Regions from separate parts of the Homo sapiens genome. Here region 1 is linked to region 2. A link means that fine-mapping ties the variant in region 2 to the expression of a gene that starts in the linked region. Tissue or cell type: skeletal muscle. Region 2 holds a variant in brackets; the other region holds the start of a gene. All regions are shown on one strand. Distances are between the middles of the regions.

Evidence for each region. PIP is the estimated chance that this variant, and not a neighbour inherited with it, causes the effect.
Region 1: it holds the start of PAM, and the variant in region 2 is fine-mapped to the expression of PAM in skeletal muscle (GTEx, PIP 0.97). The same link has a PIP of 0.9 or more in macrophages, monocytes, monocytes after LPS, monocytes after Pam3CSK4, monocytes after R848 and monocytes after interferon gamma.

What each region holds. Positions count from the first base shown.
Region 1 is chr5:102,754,004-102,756,687 of GRCh38, reverse strand. PAM (peptidylglycine alpha-amidating monooxygenase) reads right to left here and starts at 1,383. Exons shown (of 26, transcript NM_001177306.2): 1 at 1,340-1,383. RefSeq lists enhancers at 660-749, 321-821, 1,829-2,354 and a silencer at 1,140-1,689.
Region 2 is chr5:102,864,349-102,867,032 of GRCh38, reverse strand. It overlaps PAM (peptidylglycine alpha-amidating monooxygenase), which reads right to left. Exons shown (of 26, transcript NM_001177306.2): 2 at 749-1,210. The coding sequence starts at 837. Among named protein-coding and RNA genes, the nearest start is that of PAM, 110 kb to the right of the region's middle. RefSeq lists a silencer at 788-917. The variant G/C (reference allele first, on the strand shown) is at 1,147.

The sequences.
Region 1 (2,684 bases), 110 kb after region 2:
TAAAGCTGATTTTTTAGGCCATTTACTTGCTTTATAAAGTAACTAGAATGGCATGAACTATGCTTTTTTGTGCCTGTGATTATAAACTGAAAATTTACAAACAATATGTCACATGTTATTTGAGCTAAATGTCTGATTTTACTAAAATGAAAGTATCCTTCCTGGATTATTAGAATTAGCAGTAAATTTAAGTTTGCACCTAGAAGAGAAAAGCGATTGTAAAGAATGTAAAACATCTGAAGCAAACAAAGTCCAATAAGATCTTCCTTCTACTTGAATTTCTATGACCACAAAGGCACAGGATGTAAGGTCCATAGCTTTGTACACAGGGATTGGTGGGGACGACACGATTTCAACTCTGAACCCCAATGACCAGCTCCAGGAACACATGCCTTTTAGCCCCGCAAAGCTACTGACCAAATCACCCAGAGAGATAATCACATCTCAGCCAAAGGACCTGAACTCAGACGATCAGAACACAGGACCTGCCATCAGGCAGCTGCACGAGACAAGAGACCGTGCTCAAAATCACGTAATACCCTAAGTCATCCCAAGGGAGCCCCACAACTACCCTCAGCGGCAGGCAGAGCTGACGCATATTTTGCAGATGACAACATACAGGTTCCGATGGGGCGGGTCCCAAGGCCACAGAGCTGGGAAGGTGACTGAACCTAGACTTAACTAGTATCCCAAGTGGTGGATACTTCCCATTCTGCCTTGGAGATCGCCCTTCGCCCGCGTATTACATTCGGAGGCTGGCAAAACGGCAGGAAGAGAGCAAAGCTGGGCAAGGACGGGAAAGAAAGAGGGGAAGGAATTTCCACTGCTTCCCGGCACTCGCCCCCACTCCACACCCCAGGTTGCTACTCCGCGGCGGCCTCTACTTCCCCAAACTAGACTGAAGGGCGGGCGGAGAACCGAGGAGGCTTTCTAGGCGTCACGGAGAGTTCTCCAAGTTGGGGGCAGAAAAGGCGAATGAACAAATTGTACCCCCTAGGGAGAGGGCACAAGGAGAAGTGCGGAGGTGAGAAGGACCGGAGGGGAGGACGACCCCTCACAAACTGGCCAGGGACTTAATAATGGTGATGAAGGGTCGTGAGAGAGGTTTGGGAAATGCGAGAATAGCTCAGTCCCCAAAATCCTCCCTGGCCGCATCGCTGGATCCCCGCCCCATCCCCCCACCCCCGACCCGGGCAGCCCGGGAGAAAAAGCAACAACCTCCTGGGGCACCAGGAATTGGTGGCAGCAGGATCCCGAGCCCAGGCCCCCTTCCGCGCCCCCACCCTCACCCTTGCCCTGACCGCCTCGCAGTGGCGGCAGCAGCGGCAACAACACCAACCTGCGCGACCACGGGCTCTGTCCGGGACGGAAGCCGGAGCCTGCGGGCGGCGGAGCGGCGGGCGGAGTTAGTTGGAGGCTCCGGCTCCCTGGGCGGGGACAGGCTGAGCACGCGGAGGCAGCGGCGGTGGCGGGGGCTCCCTCTCCTCGGCGTGCGCCGGGCCCAGCCGGGTCCGCCGCTCGCCCTCGACTCCTGGGGCAGGTCTCAGTCCCTCCCCGGGGGCGGCTCCCGGGCCAGCCCCGCGCTCGCCTCCTCCACGCCGGCGGCCTCTGCTCCGCCCTGCCTCTTTGGGCGCAGGGGGCGCGGAGCTTGGGAAGTGGAGCCCTGGCGAGTCCCCAGCGATTGCGCGCAGCTTCCCGGGGTTTCCCTGCGGGGGTCGCGTGTGCTGGGTGTCTGAACTCACGCGCGGGCCAGAGGTAGCCAAGAGCTGGAACTCTTGCCCAAGTGCCCCGGGGAAGGGAGTGAAGGCCCGGCCTGAAAGTCTCTGACCCTCCCGAGTCTCGTGTCCCTAGAAGCAGCCTTGCGAGGTGGCCACGCCAGCTGCCCTGAGAGAAGCAGAGGAAAATGTCCGACTCTCCCTCCGCCCAGCTTCGCGCCAGAAGAACGTTTCCCGAGAGAAGGAAGGACCCATTGACCCCCAGCCCTTGCTCCAGCCTGGAGACCTGGCTGAGTGCATGGAACTGGAAGGATGGCAGAGTACCGGGGCTGAAAGCCTGGGAAATGTGCTATTTCTATTCACACCACCCCCTTGCCCGGCCCCTGGATTCAGGCCACCTCGCTCAGGTCTGCGCAGTGCTTCCCAGTTCACACCTCCGACCCGAGGAGGGAGGTCGGTATCCCTTTCTTAGCCTGGCTTCCCGCCTCCATCTGCATCCCTTTCTGCTAAACCTTTTTAACCCGCAGAGTGCCCAGCGCGCACACACCGATCACTTCGCCCCTAAACTGCGGGCAGGGAACTCTGGAGCCACCCACATCCCCAGCCTCACCCCAAAGCAAGAGAAAGCAGGGAGCCGCGCGTGGGGTGGTGGGGGCGGGGCTGGAGAGTTCCAGTAGGAAGGTTTTATACCCAAGAGGCTTGATGATGTGCAGTACTGACCCCACACACAAATTGATATGCGTTTAATTGAAGGCAGGTATTTGCCACTGTCTCTCCCTGTCTGCAGGTAACCGCTTGAGTGCGTTCACCTCGCCTCTTCCATCCCCAGCGCCAGCCCAGCCCCCTCTCTTTCTCCCAGAGTCCCATCCTCCTCTCCCTCACCTCTCCCATCCCAGCTCCCTGCAGCGCGGGTCCCGAGCTGCTCCAGATCCCCAGCACCCAGCTCTGGTCTTTCCAGACAACTCCTCC
Region 2 (2,684 bases):
TTTAAAACTCCATTCAATAAAAACTTGTTTTTATTGAAAATTTATAAAAAATTATGTCATATAAAAATATGTCAAAACATATATCTGTTTCAAGTTAATGAAGATATAGTATTAATACATTACAAATTATCACAGGCATGCCAATTTTCTAATGGCAGAAATATTAACCATGACCCAGTAAAAATTTCTGTAACTATTTTCAGTGTCCAGAATTACTAGCTAGAAACAAGAAAGCCAACCATAATCTTGCTAGGAGGCAGAGCTGTTAGGAGGAAGAAATAAAAGACTGCGATGTGAATTACAAATGTACAAGTACATAAATATTTAATAAAGTAATTATGAGGCGTTTGTATACAGCTCAGTGTTTCCTTGTGAGCTATTACAGTCTATGATCTGCTTCTCCTCGACACTGATGTATCCTTATATTTTATTCTTCGAGCTGTTATAAACAAGCAGGCATTCAAAACTAAGCGAATATATTGTAGTTCCTGAAATACCTCCCCCAGAGGGAGTGATTAGTTTTGGAAATCACAACTTCTAATTGGAGTTTTGAAAGCCAGAACTGCTTGGCTACAATGCAGTGGGCTTTTTCTGCACGGGGGACTTCACAAGAAGTTACTGTGGTAAAATTCCAAGTCATTCCAGCAAAGAACATCAACCCCGTCTATTTTGCCAACACTCAGGTTCATAAAAGTGATTACATTTCTCAACAGCATGCACAGAAAGCACCCGAACAACGAACACCCACCTCTTAAAGACAGAAAGTGGGCTTCGGAAAGCCAAACAGCTGCTTGGAAAAACAAGGAGAACTAGCAGGCTAGGGACGCGGCCAGCCATGTCCACGCCGATACGACCCCGCCGGGAGAGGACCGGGCAGCGCAGCGCGGGGCTGGGGCTGGCGGTTGGGCAGCGGCGCCGCCAGCAGCCGCTACTTCATGGCCCGGGCACGGCGGGCGTCCTGCGGCGGCCACACACCATCCGCCAGCGAGAGCAGCGAGCTGGCCGCGGCGAGGCGTCTCGGTCACGAGCGGCGGGCAAAAAGCCGTGGGCAGGCGGGACTTTTGTCCGGCCCGCAGGCGGAAGCTTTCCTCCCTCCAGCGCCGCTCGCGTGCCCTGGCGCTGGGGCTAGACGCGCGGGTGCCTTAT[G/C]ACTCCGGAATGACAGGGGCTGTGAGGGGTATCACCCAAACCCGCGTCAGTCATCATTCAGAACCTGCAAAAATAGAAGCAGATAATGGATGACTAACACGTTACAGCATTTGTCCTCAGCAAATCCCAGCTGAGGTTCTTTAATACATTAGTAGTTTCACAAGGTTGCGCCCAAGCCTGGGGAAAATGCTGGTCTGTTGAGCTCCCTCCCCCACAGCCAGCCCCCAAGATTTCAGGAACCCCCACGGCGCAGCCCCTGTAGAGCCGGTGTTCTGTCTTTGCTTGCTCTTCCTCCCTTGGACCCACTCCTGTTTTCTTTTCCTACTTCTTCCCCCCTTTATCCCTCACAGCCACCCCAGTCTGAATTTCTCTTTACTTCCTCTATCACTCCTTTCTCTCACCAAAAATGCTCTAAATACCTCTCTGCTGAATGTAAACATCACACAAATGACCGGCTAAGGCGCAAGGAAAAAAACAAAACAAAAAACGAAGAGAGGCAAAGACAAAGCACTGGATACCACAGTAATCAGATAGAAAAAGACTTTTGAGAACAAAGGCATGCTTATATACATGCATCACAGAGCTACAGATCCAAGAGGAATGATATCTCCTACCAAGAGCTCCCAAGGATCATCACAGAATTGCCCAAGTTCTCAGAATTATTTTAAAACAAACAAAAACTCTACAGCTAACATGATACACAAGATGTAAATGCCCATTTAAAAATCCTGCATCTCATAAGCAAAATAATAATTTTGTACTCATAAGGCATGCCTTCCAAAAGATATCCTTTCCTAAGTTTGGAGTTTTACAACATAATTAGAAAGAGTAGGGAGAATCTTAGCTGCCCCCCAAATGAATTTTATCTTCAAAGGTTATGATCAAGAACGTCACATTAATACAAATGAGAGGCCATGAAGAACTAATGTTACAGCTCAACGTTTTATAAGAGGACTCAACTAGGTTAAACTTGAAAATATTCATATTTTGACTGAATATATTTAAAACTATGTTATCAAACCTGCAAATTTTAGTCTGAAGGCATAAATTAAAACTGTATAATTCACAATATAAAAATACTGTACTTCCAAAGAAAGAGATTAAAGTTTTATTTTAGTCAGTAACTATAAACATCGTTCCAAGAATCTCAAATGAATTTGATGGGAAGATGTGTAACAGTAAAAAGAAAAAATAAGGAAAAATCATATCGGAATGTTTCACAGTAATACATCAGCCTCTGGAAATCACAAGATAGTGAAGCTAATCTAAAACAAAACAAAACAAAAACCTAGAACCAAAACAAATAAAAAAGCACTAACCTTAAATGAAGTGAGATTCTTCATGATAAGTGCTTTCTAGATACCATATACCAAATATAAATAAAACCTGACTTAACATCCAACCAAATCAAGGATGCTTGAGGCTCACCAGCAGTCAAGGGTCAGCTAATTTACATAAGCAATGACATTTTTAAAAGACTGACAATATTTGTTTGAACTTTCTCTTTGGCTTGCTGTTTGGGCTTTCAGAAACAAAAA